Regions from separate parts of the Homo sapiens genome. Here region 1 is linked to region 2. Evidence: fine-mapped expression QTL. A gene starts in region 2. The other region holds a variant in brackets. All regions are shown on one strand. Distances are from middle to middle.

Region 1 (8,809 bases), 400 kb before region 2:
ACTTCAAGATTATCTTGTCTGAGAGGTAAGAGAGGATGGATATTTGTTTATCAACTCCTCTCAGTCATTGTTTGAGGGCGCCAATGGCTAGAGTGTGACCCAGTGCATATGGGAAGTGGCTGGGTACCCGCAGGACTTGCTTCACTTCTGCTCAGCTATCTCTGTGCAGGACCAGGCCAATGGAGGCAGCGGTGTAAGGTATAGGGTGTGGGGCTATGTCACTGTGTGCCTCTGTGCTGTGCCTAACTTTGAGGGGAAATATACCAAAACAAGCTCTCAGGACAGACTGGCATATAGTAGATGTTCAGTAAATTAATCCTGAGTATTAGAGATCCGAGGGATTTAGGGAAGAAGGGGGCTATCAGAAGTATAGCAGACAAGAAGACTGACATCATTAGAGGGCTGGCCTGTGCTGCCCAAGTGCCAGGGCAAGAGAGTCCATGTGCCCTAGATCTGGGGAGATGTCTTTGTACCAGTCCATGATGCCCAGAGAATCTTTCAGAAAGGAATGAGTCCATTCTCCCTTTTCTATCCCGTTGCTTAGGGCAGGTAGACGGTGCAGGGTGGCTCCCTGGGCAGCAAAGTCTGGTTGAATCGTGAGGCTCAGAGGGCCTCGTTATCTCCTCCAGCCACTTGCCTGGAAGGCTCCTATCCTGGGAAACAAACCTGGGAAGTAGGAAGAGAGGAAGTGGCTGGAGAAAGAATGAGCAATTACACATGGCAAGCACCAGCCCCAAACATGCAATTACTTTTCAAACAGGCTATTTACAGCCCGTCAGACAGAGCCTGCAGGGAGTGGGAATTGTGTAGTCTGAGACTGGACAGGGCTCCGAGAGGCAGGGAAGTGAGCATCAGGGCTGGCTCATTGATGTGTGAGGCAGAGAGACAGACCCACAGCAGGGAGCCAGCAATTGGGAGAGGATGGAAAGGGCAGTCAAGATCCCCTCTCTGATCTGCCGCCTCACCACTGACACTTCTGCAGGAGCCCAGCTCCTCACTGTCCTGGTCAAGTCCACCAGGGCCACCCCCTCTCCAAGACTCCACCTTCACTGTCTTCCCCACCCACTGCCCCTCCTTGTCTTTCTCCTGGTCCTCAGCCTGGTTTCTACCGCCCTGGGCAAAACTCCCCTGAGTGCCCCCACCCACCCCAATAACTTACTTTCTGAACCATTGGAACCTTAATTCTTATTGCCATTCACTTCCCACAGATTGTTTTGTCAGTGTCATCTGTTCCCAGCTAAAATTCATTGTCTTATTTTTCATTTGTGTACTCCTGTGATCTTAGTCTAGTGAACAAGATCACTGAATCACTTCTGACTTGATCACCACATGCCTCCGTTTCCTTGTTCATGAAATGGGATTCAAAATAGTACTTTATTCTTAGGGTTGCTGTGAGGGCTATAGCAGTGACTGCTAGTTACGTGCTTAGCACAGTGCCTGGTTTAGAGTGCAAACTCAGTCAACATGGAACGGACACATGTGAGGCCTTGGCTTGCTAGGGACCTGTTCGGTGTTTCTGGGGCTCAGATAAAACCACGATGGTCAGGTCACTCTTTCACTTCTTCCACATTTTGACTCATTTAAGTTAGAATAGGAAAAATGTATATAATTATAGGATGTATTTTAGAAGAGTTTCTTGCAAGTCTTTTTGGTTTGGAACCATTTAAATTAGTTCTGCATAGTCAAGACCTAAAGACCTGTATTCCAATACCTTTATTGGAACTGCTTATATTAGTATGTATAGACAAGATCTGAAAGTCCTCTTTTGTGCTTACTAGAGAGGAATTTCAGAACTGTTATATATACCCAATACAGGTTTTGGTCAGCCTCATTTTCAAAAGGGATTGTTCCCCAGGGTCATTTACGATTATTAGAGTGAGGCAGATCTTCAAAGGCATGTCTGTGTTAGGGGAAGCAACTGGGACCTTATTGCCATGCTGGGTTGATTGTGCTGAAGATGAGAACATTCGATGATGTCATTTAGGGATGGCCTTGGCAGATACTGCACCTGCTCCTCTTTTAGGTATGGCTCCTCTTAGTTAGATACCGGATTGGGACAGCTGTCCCCTTTGCCTAAGTATAAAGCAACTCTGAGCCCCTCGAGGAAAAACACTGGAGAGCTAAAATCAGAGCAGTGCTTAGATCTTAGCTCAGACTTCATGCTGCATCTCCTCTGTTTGTCTTCCACATCCTTCTCTACCCCAATCTTTGCTCTCAGTCCAGGGACATTGACCTCTGGGGACTGTCTCAATTTGCCCTTTTGCCCTCTGGTTTCTACCTGGGTTTAGCCGATGGGAGGCACCAACAGGAAATCAGAGAGAGAGGTTGGAATAATTATTCCTTTGGTTCTTTCCTTCTGTCCTGCAGATTGGCAGAGGTTGATCTCTCTGTGTAAGGCCACAGCTTCACCAGGGCTGCGGTCACCTATAACTTTCTAGTGTCTTTCTGGCGGCTATTCCCTCCTTTGCCTTGAGAGCCAAGGGATGGGAACAGCCCTTGTTGTCCTGACATATTTCACTACTTCTCTTAATGCTTCTCCTAACTTTGTAAAACAGCCTCTGCATTAAACTTTGCTCAAACATTCAGTTGTTCTCCCCCTGACATCTATGAGGCAGCTTGGTACAAGTGGAAAAGAGTGTAGGTTCTGCAGTGAGATTTTCTGGGTTCATACACCACTTAACATTTTAAGTTTCTCTTTAAAAATTAATTTTAAATCTGTAATTGATATATAATAAGCATGCATATTTATGGGGTACAGTGTGATGTTTCAATACATGTATACATTGTATAATGATCAAATCAGGGTAATTAGCAGATCCATCACTTTAAACATTTATCATTTCTTTGCAGTGACAACATTCAAACTCTTCTAGTTTTCCCAAAATATACACTACATTGTTATTTGCTATAATCACCCTACTGTGCAATAGAACACAAGAACATATTCTTTCAGTCTAACTGTAACTTTGTAACTATCGACCAACCTCTTGCATTACTCTCCTCTCTGCCTCCCAGCCTCTGGTAATCACTATTTACTCTCTAATTCTATGAAATCAACGTTTTAAGATTCCACATATGAGCTAGACATACAGTGTTGGTCTTTCTGTGCCTGGCATATTTCACTTAACATAATGTCCTCCAGGTTCATTCACCCTGTCGCAAATGACAGGATTTCATTCTGTTTTATGGCTGAATAGTGTTCTATTGTGTGTGTGTGTGTGTGTGTGTGTGTGTGTATATATATATATATATAAAATTTTCTGTATTCATTCTTCTGTAGATGGGCATTTAGGTTGATTTCATATCTTGGCTATTGTAAATAGCACTGCAGTAAACACAGGAGTGCACATATCTCTTCAATATACTGATTTCATTTCTTTTGGATATACACCTAGCAATGAAATTGCTGAATCATTTAATAGTTTACATTTTAATTTTTTGAGGTACTTCCATACTATACTATAAAGGCTATAGTTTTTTTACATTCCTACCAATAGTACCTAATAGTTCCCATTTCTCCACATCCTCACCAGCTCTTGTCACATTTTGTTTTTTCGATGATAGCCATCCTAACTGGGGCAGAGTGATATCTCATTGTGGTTTTGAATTGCATTTCCCTGATAATTAATGATGTTGAGGACTTTTTCATGTATCTGTTGGCAATTTGTATGTCTTTTTTTGAGAAATGTCTATTCAGGCTTTTCCCCCTTTTTAAATCTGATGATTATTGTTGTTTGCTATTGAGTTGTTTGAGTTCCTTATATAGTCTGGATATTAACTACTTGTTAGATACACAGTTTTTCTCTCATCCCGTAGGTTGTTTCTCCACTCTATTGTTTCTTTTCCAGTACAGAAGCTTTTTAGTTTGATGTAATCCTATTTGCCTATTTTTGCTTTTGTTGCCTGTGGTTTTGAGGTCTTATTGAAAAAATCTGCACTCAGTCCAATTTTATGCAGTGTTTCTCCAATGTTTTCTTGTAGTAGTTTTATAGTTTCAGGTCTTGCATTTAAGTCTTCAATCTATTTAGAGTTGATTTTTGTATATGGTGAGAGATAGGGGTATAGTTTTATTTATTTATTTATTTATTTATGACAGAGTCTTACTCTGTTACCGAGGCTGGAGTGCAGTGGTGTGATCTTGGCTCACCGCAACCTCCGCCCCCAGGGTTCAAGTGATTCTCCTGCCTCAGCCTCCCGAGTAGCTGGGACTGCGGGTGTGCACCACCATGCCAGCCTATTTTTTTTTTTTTTTTTGTATTTTTAGTAGAGACAGAGTTTCACCATGTTGGCCAGACTGGTCTTGAACTCCTGACCTCAAGTGATCCACCCACCTCAAAGTGCTCAAAGTCTCTCAAAGTGCTGGGATTACAGGTGTGAGCCACTGCACCCAGCCAGGGGTCTAGTTTTAATCTTCTGCAGGTGTATATCCACTTGTCCCATCGCCATTTATTGATGGGATGTCCTTTCTCCAATGTGTGGAAGACATGTGTGGAGTTGAGCGAAGATATTGAACTGTGTAATGGTTAATACTGAGTGTCAACTTGATTGGATTGAAGGATACAAAGTATTGATCCTTTGTGTGTCTGTGAGGGTGTTGCCAAAAGAGATTAATATTTAAG[C/T]CGGTAGGCTGCGGAGGGCAGATTCACCCTTAATCTAGTGGACACAATCTCATCAGCTGCCAGCGAATATAAAGCAGGCAGAAAAAACGTGAAAAGGAGAGACTGGCCTAGCCTCCCAGCCTACATCTTTCTCCTATGCTGGGTGCTTCCTGCCCTCGAACACTAGACTCCAAGTTTTCCAGTTTTGGGACTCAGACTGGCTCTTCTTACTCCTCAGCTTGTAGACAGCCAATTGTGGGACCTTGTGATCATGTAAGTTAATACTTAATAAACTATTCTTTAAATATATATATAATATGTGTGTGTGTGTGTGTGTGTGTGTGTGTGTGTGTGTGTGTGTATCCTATTAATTTTGTCCCTCTAGAGAACCTGACTAATACAAACTGGTATTGAGCTGACCGATCTAAAGAAAAATTTCCAGGGAATAAGATTGGGCAGATAATAGCTAAGAATACTGGAGGATGCTGGGGAGTAGGAGGGGTATAGAAGTATTCTTTTTTTTTTTTTTTTTTTTTTTTTGAGACAAGGTCTCACTCTGTCACCCAGGCTGAAGTGCAGTGGCATGATCATGACTCACTGCAGCCTCAACCTCCTGGGTTCAGGTGATCCTCCCAGCTAAGCCTCCTGAGTAGCTGGAACTAAAGGTGTGCACCACCATGCCCGGCTCATTTTTTTTTCTTGTATGTTTTGTAGAGACAGAGTTTTGTCATGTTACCCAGGCTGGTTTTGAACTCCTGGACTCAAGCAACCCTCCCACCTCAGCCTCCCAAAGTGTTGGGATTACAGGCATGAGACACTGCCTGGCCAGAAGTATTATTTTTGAGTGTGGTTATTTGAAGAAGTATAGGCAGGACTTTTTGGCCAATGTAATATTCCTCCAAAGTGCTGGAAGGCTAGAATTCCATTCAGCTCTCCAATCTTCCAGGCATAGGTGAACTCTATTCTAGACTGGAGTTTCTCGTCCCACATTGCCAATTCAATTTTTCCTCAGTTTGATTCTTCTTAGAGTGGTTGATGAGCTTCTGTTTCTCTTATAATATGTGGGACATCTTGGACCCTCCATCTTACACCTTCCCGACTTACTTACCTGTGACTTTGGCAATTACTGCAACAGCAGGTTGCATGCACAGGTAGTCTGATCAGAGTGGCTAGAGCCTTGTGACTTTTCTCTTACTTTCTGCTCTTGAGCTTCTCTGTGTCTACCTTGGAGGATGCTGTGGGATATTGCTCAGTTGTGCTGGTTCAAATACCCATGTGGAAGAGCTAGGGAGTTAAACAATGTCTGGGCAAATTCTTTACCGGTGGATAAGGAGCCAATGCATGAATATTTCCCTCTCCTTATTGTGGACAATTCTGAAGCAGGGTACACAACTCTTCAAGGGCCTGGTGGGATTGAGTCTCAGTTATTTGCGACTACTGAATCAACTCAGTCATACACACTGGGATTGACTTTTTCTCCTTTCCCTTTTTACTCTTCCCATTCCCTCCAACCCATTCCATAGGATTGCCATCCCAAATAAACTACATACTGGCAAGCCCTTGTCACAAGTTCTGTGTTGTTTTATGCATGATGAATATATTCTAAGCTAAGACATCATTTTATTTGGTATTCAGTTATTATATGCATTTTATGGTTGCATTTTATGCTACTTTAATGAACATAGTTTATACTCTCTTAATAATCCACAAATAGCTGGAAGTGAGCCCTTCATAAATAAGACCACGATTTCAACAATGAGTCTTAATGGCCATCTTCTTCAGTGAGTTACAAATTCCAGCAAGCTTGGCATCTGTTGAAGCAGGATGGTCCAGTGGAAAGAACGATAAAGCGGGAGTCAGGAGCATCAGCTCTTTGATCCAGCCCTATCATTCTCTAATTATATGATTAAAAATACTTGTTTTAACAGCTGTATTGAGATATAACTTATATACCACAATAATCACCCAATTAAGGTGTATAATTCAATGGTTTTGAGTATTTATAGAGTTATACAAACATCTCCATAATCTAATTTTAAAACATCTTTGTTACCCCCCAAATAAATCTTGTGCCCATTAGCAGTCACTCCTCACTCCCCTAATTGTCCCTTCTCACTCCCCAGCTCTTTCCCCCGCCTTCCAGATTCAGGCAGCAACTGATTTACTTTCTATTTCTATAGATTTGCCAATTCTGGACATTTTGTATAAATTGGATCAGGCAGTTTTGGTCTTTTGTGACTAGATCCTTTCACTGTGCAGAAAGTGTTTGATGTTGATCTATACTGTAGTGTTGGCTGTGTGATTCTGAGTAACCACTAACCTCTGTGTCCTGCTTCCTCCTCTGCTCCCTGGAAGAGGTCTCTGAGGTCCTTTCCAGCCCTAGGAGTCTCAGGCAAGCAATGTTAAGTAGCACAGAAACCTAGAGGAACTATGGGCCCAGTGTTTAATTTTTCAGCTATGAGCTAAAAGAAGAGGAACAATGTTTATTGCTGAGCTCCTATTCGACAGTTGATACCCGTGTGTGCACAGAAACCAATTACCTATGAGGAGTAATTGAAATCATTAATACCCACAAACAAATGTGTCTATTCTGCAAGTAATTTGCAGTAACATTTAGTAATTGATAGTAATTTTTAGTAATTAAACACTAAGTAGTTAATTTGCCAAGCTACACAGCCATTTTAATGGGGTTCCTTGGTGTTCCCACAGCAAATCTTAATTACTTAACCCAAGCACCACGAATATTTCTGTCATTTCTGAAAAAATATACAGCATGTGCTATTCTGGGTAAGCTGCAGTAGAGAGGAAGCCAAGGAGAGGAATTATTTTCCTGGGCAGTAGTAATTAAAAGACTGAAGCTATCGTTTGGGCCAATAAAAGGTCGTGGAGTGAATCCCTGTGTGTGTGTGTGTGCGTGTGTGTGTGTGTGTTTGTGTGTGTGTGTATATATATATTTATCTATCTATCTATCTATCTATCTATCTATCTATCTATCTATCTAATCTATCTGTATTTTGTCTCTGCTTCACAGAAAGTCAAAGTGAAATCTGGGTTATAACAACTTATTTCTCTCTCCTCCTTCTCCTAAATGTTTTGGCCCAGACTTTATGAGGTTTGTTCAGGCTATTACAAACCCACGTCTGAGTTGCTTGTGGCAGGGAGCAATCATAGAAACCCACTTTTTTCTTCAGGATACCATCTGCAGTTCTGATTTTGATATTCCCATTCAATAGGCCATTCGTAGTGATTTATTAGCTGTAGAGGACAGATAGTAGCTTGCTCAGCATCTTGCCCTCCTTCCTTTTTCTTCACAGTACCCCAAATTTATTCCGGAATCCATCCCTTTTCCTTGCAGCCTATGTGATTGGGTGAAGCTCTTGCTGGGGTGGATCTTGATTAGTCTAAGCCAGTCATGGTGATTCCACTACAGGCTCTTGCTGGAGACCGGTTCAGGAAGTCAGGCTGCTATTGGTCCGGGAGTGATCATGTGACTCTAGCTGGCTCAGTGAGAGAGAAGAAAAGGGCGTTTCTTTCGCAGGTAGGAGAGAGACTGTCTTCCCTCTCCCTGCCTTTCTGGGTATGAGGAAGGGAGCACATTGGCTGCAGGGGCTGCAGGCAGCCATCTTGACGCCACGTGGGAAACGAGGTCTCAGAACAAGGTCTACCCAAAGATGGATGGAGTCAAGAGAACTGCAGAGAAACTGAACCTAAGTTCTACTGTGCCTAGAGTTCTATTTTCTCAACTTCTAGTCAAGCGAGATGATACATTTTTCTCAGGTTTTTGTCAAGTTTGAACATGGCTGTCTGCCATTTGCAGCCCCAAGTATCTTGACTCATTTGACACCAGTCTTCATCTTTCACCCTAATCCAATTGCTGCATTCCTGAAATAAGTCTCCATACTTGGCTCACGTATTATTGTCACGGCTTGTGCCACTTGTCTCTTTCTGGGGGAGATTCTGCACAAGCAACACTGTGAACTTTCAAGCTCGGCTCCAGGCCCACCTCCTCTGTGGAGCCTTCACTGAGCACCTCAGTCCTCTATGAAATTCTGTAAGTTGTTGTCTGAGCTCCGTATTTGACATTCCTCATTTACAGACAGCATGTACACATCTTCTCAACTACATTCTGCACAACAGTGATGGTGTCATCTGACCTGACAATCCGGAGGGGAAGATGAACTAGACACCCATAGAAACTAACACCAAGAGGT
Region 2 (8,809 bases):
GAACAAGTGCTAGCTAGCTACATGGAGACTGCTCAATAAATATTGAATAACTCACGAGGGACTCAATAAATAACGATTGCTTAATTGATTAGCTCCGTCAATAAATCTTGCTTTGAACAGAGGTACAGCCATTGAAGATACTCAAAAGGCAATCTCGGTCACTGTGCCTCTGGATAGGGGAAAGCTCCATGAATGTAAGATCTGGTGGGAGAAGGCAAGTTATTTAACCTCTCTAAGCCCCGGGAGCTTCATCTGTAAAATGGGAAAATACTGTAGTGCTTCCGTGTCATTGTCACTGTGACAATGTAATGAGGATGATGCACAGAAGGCATTTATCACACTGCCTAGTCCATTATAAATTCTTAATAAACATTAATTGATATTAGCTACTCATAGATCTTAAGAACTGGATTGAAAGAAACACCATGAGAAAACTTTCAATCTGTAGCAATATTACCCAATAGCTTCATGTTGTAGAGACACTGTACCACTTTACTCCCCTAATATTCTTTTGAGGTCACCAAGAGCGTAAGTAATCTACAAGTGAGTGGGTTGTAGGTTCATTTTGGAGACGACTGTCATTAACTCCTGATACATGGTCCCTTCTGTGATCCTGACTGTGTGATGGGAAGGAGTGGTAGATGCATTTACAGACCTCGTTGCTCCACAAGCATGCTCTAAGAACTTACTAGGTACCAGGCACTGTGCTGGACACCAGGATTTCAGCTGTAAATTAGGCAGACAAGTTTCTTGCTTAAAAGTGCAGTCAAAGTGTCCTTACAAACCATGGAAAGGGGCCATCAGCAGCTATGGATGCTCGTGACCAGAGCCCCTTAGTCTGTTGGAGGAGGGGCTGTCAGGAAAGACTTCCAAGAGGAAGTGACACTTGGGATGAGACCAAATAGATGAGATGGGAGTGGCGTGGTACCCCCCTCCCCACAGCAGCTGCCATATGGGTGGAAGATGGAGAAGACAGTGTGTCCATGGCTACTTCAGACCCAGCCCGATGGGGACCAAGCTACAGTCATGGACGTTCTGGCTGTGCCTCCTGTGCAATGGAATCAGGAGGTCAGTAGCTCAAAGAAATGCCTCCACTCAGGATCTCTGCATCCCCTCTCTCCTTCCTGTGCCACAGCTACCTCCTGGGAGAGAGAACACAGAAACCTGATTTCTCCCCACTTGATGCTTGAAAGGGGAGGGAAGAAGAGAAGGTGACTGCCTGGATCTCTTACTTGGGATGGAGTGTTGTCATGTAAACAACTTTTCACCCTAGGATTTTTTGGGGCTGTCAAGAAGTGACAGCCAGAGCTGGGGACACTGGCTGGAGAGGCCATTAAAGGCCATGAGAGGTGATTTCCCACCTGGCTTCTTCCTCCAGAACTTAGCACTTGCAGCAGTCTCTTCCACCCTACCCCCAACCCACATACATCCTCTCCCCACATAAACATCTCCTTCAGTGGTACCTACCGACTTTTAGCTTTCTAAACCAGACTGAAAGAAAAACATTGATGAGTTGCCAATCTACAGCATTTCACCCACATTTATCTCATTTAATACTCTTAACCTTGAAATTCATTCATTCATTCCTGTAACAAATATGTGTCAAGAACCAACTCTATACCAGCTGTAATCTTTTTTATGCTATTGTCATCTTATCAATGAGGGTGTGGAGCCTCACAAAGGTTAAGTGACCTACCTTGACTCACACATTGAGTAAATAATAAAGTCAGTGAACAAATTGTAGAGATCAAGTCAGCTGAGCTGACTTCAAATACTTTTTCCACTACAGTGGAAAACACTTCTCTAATTGATTGGTCTCTGGATTATTCCATATGGAGTTTTAAGGAAAAAAAAAGATTAAATTCTGGGCATGCCAAGCAAACAGTGGCTAAGTGCTTTCATCAAAGAGTTCATTGGCAAATTACATTCACTGCCTATCTACCCTACTGGGAACCAAACAAAACAAAAATGTGAAGTCAAGTCCTTTGTCTTTCCTCAATGCCTACTCCTGTCACTGTTTCCAAGAAAGGCTCTGATACTTACACAGAGGTATAAGCAACAAAAATACCTTGATGAAGACCAGCCTGGCCAACATGGTGAAACTCCATCTTTACTAAAAATGCAAAAATTAGCTGGGTATGCTGGCAGGTGCCTGTAATCCCAGCTACTCAGGAGGCTGAGGCAGGAGAATCTCTTGAGCCTGAAAGGTGGGAGTGCAGTGAGCCAAGATCACACCACTGCATTCCAGCCTGGGCGAGAGAGTGAGGCTCCATCTCAAAAAAGAAAAAATGCTTGAAATGCTCCTCCATCGTGGATGAGAATTGTGAGTATCATGTCCTGCAGGGGTGGGGCTGGAACACTTGCTGCCAGTCCCACAGGGGAGGTCTGCTTTTGCAAACTCAGCAATAATGGAAAGCACCTGTTCAGTCTTAGGCATGGTAGAAATTTGTGGGGGAGGGAGAAATGCAGAACCCACAAGCCATGTTGTGTTGGAAGAGAGAGAAAGTAAAAGTTTGAAACACCGTGGCGTCATAAAGCCAGCCGGAAGAACCGATTTTGGGGATTAAGAGTGACTACATTGTTGGCCGGACGCGGTGGCTCATACCTGTAATCCCAGCACTTTGGGAGGCTGAGGCAGGCAGATCACGAGGTCAGGAGTTCAAGACCAGCCTGACCACCATGGTGAAACCTCATCTCTACTAAAAATACAAAAATTAGCCAAGTGTGGTGGCACACGCCTGTAGTCTCAGCTACTCAGGAGACTGAGGCAGGATAATTCCTTGAACCTGGGAGGCAGGGGCTGCAGTGAGCTGAGATCACACCACCGCACTCCACCCTGGGCAACAGAGCGAGACTTCTTCGTCTCCAAAAAAGAGTGACTACATTGTCACATTCACTTTTTCCTTTTCCAACCCCCTCCGTGCATGTGCAAAACCATTAGAAAAGCAACAAGCAGGGCTGGTGAAGGAATCAGGGGAAGGCTTCTCTCATACTCTCTCTCCCACATAGGAGCATAGTCCCCGAGTTTTAAGTCTTACTGCTGCCACTTTCTGATCGAGTGTCTTTTAGCAATTTATACTCTGAGTCACAATTTTCTCATCTGCAGAATGAGTGTAATAATAGCAGCCTTGCAGAGTCATCGTGAGGACCCAGTGTAACCATCTGCATATGAGATGGGAGCAGCCAGCACCGTGGAATGAGGCAAGGTTTGGAGGGGAAGAGCTCACGACATGCTTCTAAACACTTAGCTATGTGACCATGAGGAACTCACCACCCCTCCAGCTTCATCCACCTCACTTTTCACATGAGAAAAGTAACAAACTTGTGCTTTGTTGGAATCAAAGGCGGTAGCAAGTAAATGTAATAATGCTTTTAAACTGTCAAGTCCTATTCAGATGAAAAGATACACCATTGCCTTTCTCCTAAGCAGGGCATTGTGCCTCCATGAATACCTACAATCAAGGTGTTCCCAGGCCCCATGTATACACTGCCAGTGCCAGTGCTGGGGGATTCCAAAGGAGCAGAAGTTGTGGGCCCCTCCCAGCTGGAGAATAACATCAAGGTAACCCGAAGCAGGATGTAAGCACAGTTTAGACTGCGCTGTCTCAGTGACATGCTGGTGTAAGGAGGAGGCACAGGATGTGGGAAAGGCCCGTAGATGAGGCCATGGAGGAGCTGAGGCTGCGATGGGTCCAGGAGGATGAGCATCCTGGGTGTTCCAGCCTCAATGCCTCCAGAGGCAGACAAAGGCTGGGCAAAAGGAGTTTGCCTGAGAGATGCGCAGATGTTCTCATCAAGCACAAGGGAGAGAGTGAGAATATGAGTCAGGACAGGCAGCAAGGCCCAGAAAGGGTCCATTGTTGTGCAAGCCACCCCTGTTTGTTTGCAGCTGGGCTCAACCCTGCTGAGGGGCCAGGAAGCTGCGGTGTATATCTGCTCATTCCAGTGCCACATAGAATTGACAGTGCTTCCTGTCAGGAACTTTCTGACATTCCCTTGGCCAGAGAATGTTCTCAGGCCAAGAGACACAGAGAGCTGAGGACTGCGGGCAGGTAGCCCGAGGGGATGTGAATGGGACACCGACAGCATCTGCTAGCTTTGGCAGATGGGAGCTAGGGCCACTCCATGCTAAGGGACAGCATGAACAAAATGAAGGAGAAGATGGGTTGAGTGAGGAGCTCGCCAAGCTTTGCTCCAGAGGGAGAGAGTATTTGAAATTGGGACTATCTGCAAAAATCACCAAATATATGAAGGGCAGCAAGGAAACTCTAAGAGGGGAAAATGGGCAGCAGTGTGGAGCTGCTGCACACCACTGATGATGGGAGGTGTTAGAGAGGGAAATGCCTCTTGTTCTGGGGTGATGATGATCTTGCAGCACCGGCCTGGGCCGGCAGTTGGACAATGGTGACCGGATGAGTGGCCAGTCATGGTTCCACTCAATGCTGGTGAATGAACTATCCCCTGGCAGTTTGCAAAGCTCAGGTCCACAGCTGACTGTGGAACTGGAAGTGCCACAGCACCCACCCCTGCCGCCAAGCCGTGCCCCACTTCTGCTGCTAAATGGAGAAAGGATGGAGCCTACATTAGAAACCAGAGACCTGGCAAAGTGGGTGGGACAGGAGGTTCCTGGCAAGCGACAGACAGAACTACAGAATGCCGTAAGAGAAAGGAAGGTGGTTGGTCTTTCAGTCAGAAGTGCTGGCTGGACATGGAGCACTGCTACGGTGACCAGCGCAGCCACCACTAGGAACAGCGACTCTCCCAGACCCTCCCTCACCTGCCACCCATCGTAGTGGCTGCTCCTCTTGAACGGCTGGGGCGAGAGGGATACTGCATGCGATGGAACTGATAAACCAGTTCAAATAGCATTAGACTCACTCACCGATACTGTCTCATTGAAACACATTGCTCATTTATTCCTCTTCGTCATCCTTTGAGACACAGTCATTATTTTCCAGATGAGGCCTGCTCAAGAGCATTTGGCTGATGGGGGCTGAAACCTCTCACTGCAACCAGGTTCATTTGGCTCCAAGTCCTGTGTGCTCTTTATGAAGTCATAGCAAGGCCTGGACTAGGGTGAGAAAGGACAGGTGCCTGTGAGGCAGGACTTAAAGGAGGCGCTGGCCCTCAGGGGCATGCGAGGGCAGGGTGAGCACCTGAGAGTGAGGGCCTCCTTAAAGTCTGTGGTCCAGGGTCCTTTGGTCCCCTAATCCCAGAGCAGAAAAGAAAGCCTTCAAATCCAGCTGCTGCCTGAAGAGCCTCAGACTCACTCCCCTGGGGCAGCAAAGTGCATTTCTTTACCCACAAGGCCCTGTAGTGCTGACTGGAAGATGGGGCTGTCAGGGACTCATGGGAAAGAATGGCACATTGGATACAAACTCATTCGGCTTAGTTTTACCCTGTGGCTGCCCCTGTAGTGTCATTTGTGACACCAGGAATATGTTCCATACCAACCGAATAGCTTCTCTTCCTATTCGTGCCAGTGCATGGAACTATATAATCATTCATCTATTCATTAATTCATTTATTTGTAGCCTTCCTCTTTATATAGGCTTAGAGAGCCACTACTCGAAGCCAAGCCTTACGTCAGGCAGCAGAGATACCAAGATGAGGTTGAAGAAAACACACGGCTTTCTCCACTCATGGACTCCAATGAGGATGGCAACAACATGGTAATTAGAAGTCATTAGCAGATTGCTCTCAGCAAGTGGAAAGCAGTGAGAATTCTGAAGCAAGACTTCTCTGGACTTCAGGGAAGTCCCTCTAAGGAAGTGACATCTAAACTGGAACTCCACTGCCTCTAGTATGTCTACTCTGGAGTTCCCACCTTTAAGGGTTTCTGGGAACATTAATATATATAGTGTGAGTGGATTTGGCCCTCTCTGAGTCTGAGAGAGTAGGTGTGCAATAAGAGTTAACATTTGCTAACTTGCAGTCTTATGGCTCCTTACAGGGCTGAGACTTGACCTTGTGACTCCAGCCTAGGATTATATAAGGATGTGACTGACCTTAGAGGATTTCACGGGAACTTAGCTGTACACGTGGAACCCATTTATTTGCTGACACTTCTCATTTCCTTTCAGAACAAACCTACATTCCCAGACCTATAATTTTCTTGAGAAAATGGGTTTATTATAAGTCACTCAATAAAACACCCTACCATGGCTTCCCAGTACAAACCCTAGTTTCAATTAGTCTTATTTTCTTCCTGAACTGATGATTCCCAAATCTATCTATCTGTTCATTAGGATCACTGGAGAACTATTAAAATGTCCAAAGTCCAGTCCACACCCCAGACCAATTAAATCAGTCACTGAGGCTAAGATCAATATTTTTTTAAGCTCCCCAGTCAGAATTGGAATTTCAACTGCTGGTCAGTTTCTCCTATGAACATGGGTTGATATGGGCACGATTGTGGGGCTAGCGTTGCCATCTCTCCCTATTAAACTTCTCCTACTAGAGCTACAATACTTTTCGGCCCTTGGATGGCTGTGCTTTTCGAATTCTTGTACTTCCACTGTTCTACCTCTTTTATTCAAGGCAGCCTTTCCTGCATGCATTTATTCTTTCATTCACTTACAAGAATATACTGAATATGGATTCTAGGAACTAGGAAATGAGTTGTTGACCTTGGGCTAGGGTGAGAACATTTGAGTGGTTCTTCGTGGTGACCTGCCTCCCCTGCCCCCATAAAAGCCTCTCTCCTTCCTGCCTTCCAGTCCACTGATGCATGGGCCCAGGCAGCACCAACCATTTCCTTGCTTGTAGTCAGTTCCCCATCTACCAAGTAATGCCTGCCTTCCCCTCCTGTTGGAGGGTGTATTAGTCTGTTTTCATGCTGCTGATGAAGACATACCCCAGACTGGGTAATTTATAAGAAAAAGAGGTTTAATGAACTCACAGTTCCACATGACTAGGGAGGCCTCACAATCATGGCAGAAGGTGAGGAGGAGCAAAGTCATGCCTTACATGGTGGCAGGCAAGAGAGAAAGACAAGCGAAAGGGGAAATCCCTTATAAAACCATCAGATCTTGTCAGACTTATTCACTACTATGAGAGCAGTATGGGGGAAACTGCCCTCATGATTCAATTATCTCCCACAAGGTCCCTCCCACAGCATATGGGAATTATGGGAGCTACAATTCAAGATGAGATTTGGGTGGGACACAGCCAAACCATATCAGAGGGTCCAAATTCAACTCTTCTAGAGTTAACTACCCAAATTCCCAAAACCTCTTGACTGTTTGTTTCACAGAGGTTTTTTTTTTTTTGAGGTCATAGTAAAAAATAATTTTAGAAACATGCCCTGACAAATGTGGGTTCCTGAAATTGAGGCGGTGAATCCTTCACCCCTCCCTAGTAGCCCTGAATGAGTCCTCTCTTCTGAACTAGACTCCAAGCCTCCCTAACGGCAGCAGTGATTTCCAGTCCTCAAATGACACAGTCAAAACTCTCACTAGAATGCTTGTTGAGTGACACTTAGCAGATCATGTGTTGACTGGAGAAAAGGAGGGAGGAAGAAAGGAGAAGAGAACAGGAGGGAGAGGAAAAGGGAGGAGATACAGAGTAAGCCAGAGAGGAGAGAGACAGAGACACAGAATGGAACCGATTTTGAGATCCTACCTGTCCTGCCCATCGCCTTGTGGAGGACAGAGGAATGGGGCATCTAAGCTCACTCACACTGCCAATTTGAACTGTTCTGCCCTAGCCTCCCTCCCTACCCACTTGAGAGCATTGGAAAGCTGCCCCATGAAGGCTTTACAAAGCATCACCATAGTAACTGTTTTCTCCACTAAAAGACGCCTATGCAATGAAGCTCTGCACTCTTGTCTGCCCCTCTCAGTAACTGGGAGAGGCTTCCACTCTCTCCAGCAAAGGCCTTACCGGCCACTGAGTGACTCTATCTCATATTCTCATGACTGTCATTACCAGCGTTAGTATTTTCTTTATTCTTTTGCACTTCCCTGGCTCTGCTGGTCTAAAATGGGCTTTCCATGACTTTAATTGGCTCTCATCAGCACTGAGGTCAGTGAGGCAGCCACAGAGTTCATTTGACTAAGGCACAAGCAGAGGCGGAAGTCTGAACAACTTGCTCAAGGTCTCCAGCTCCAGAGTCCTGCAGATGAGGGCTCACAATCCCTAAGTTTACTATCCTTTCCTCAGCCCCAGTTTGTCCTTCCGCAAGGGGGAAATCGCCTCTACAGTTATCACACTAGGAGAAATTATACTTCCCTGAATTGTAAGCTTGGGCATCTGTGTGTCAAAGCAGAGAAGAAGTCAGGGAGGTAGCTTGTGTCTTTGAGGGGTGTGAGGGGCTGGGCTTGGTGAGCAGATGGACAGAGCTGAGCTGCCGGGTTCCACGTCAACAATGGCAAGTCCATGGGGAATTTCTGTAGAATTAGATATATTGCTGGACGCGAATAATTAAGGATTCTGATGTGGTCAGGTAGATTAATGTCCCTCTGAAAGCTCTGGATCAATGTTGGAAGGGAAAAAAATAAAAGACATGCATAATTTAAAAAAACCATCAGAAACTTTGCTTGACATGATGACATTACTGATTTTTTTATGATCTTCTCAAATACACTCTATAACCGTTATTAATTTAGTATCGTTAAAAGCTCATCCTTCAAATGTCAGGCAAGAGCCAAAGCTGAAAAATAGAACCGCTTAGGGCTGGAAAAAATCCAGGAAAGAGAGGCGGAAAGCTCTAGGAACACGAGGCCCTGGGCTGCCTCCAGCTTCCCGAGAAACTCCCAGCCAAGCTCTCTGTTGCTGTGACTTCTCCCTCTTGGGCTACTTTGTTTGT

Alleles and levels. Positions count from the first base shown, and alleles are read on the strand shown. Sizes are in standard deviations (SD) of each study's normalised expression.
As copies of C replace T in region 1, the expression in liver of the gene that starts at base 5,136 in region 2 goes up (large effect, 1.0 SD a copy in GTEx).

What was found. PIP is the estimated chance that this variant, and not a neighbour inherited with it, causes the effect.
Region 1: its variant is fine-mapped to the expression of LINC02153 in liver (GTEx, PIP above 0.99).

Annotation. Positions count from the first base shown.
Region 1 is chr8:20,566,163-20,574,971 of GRCh38, forward strand. No RefSeq gene overlaps it. Among named protein-coding and RNA genes, the nearest start is that of SNORD3F, 44 kb to the right of the region's middle. The variant C/T (reference allele first, on the strand shown) is at 4,620.
Region 2 is chr8:20,968,851-20,977,659 of GRCh38, forward strand. LINC02153 (long intergenic non-protein coding RNA 2153) reads left to right here and starts at 5,136. Exons shown (of 5, transcript NR_033894.1): 1 at 5,136-5,803. LOC105379316 (a long non-coding RNA gene) reads right to left here. Exons shown (of 4, transcript XR_007060845.1): 2 at 4,883-5,071. It overlaps LINC03023 (long intergenic non-protein coding RNA 3023), which reads left to right. Exons shown (of 5, transcript NR_130774.1): 5 at 1-88.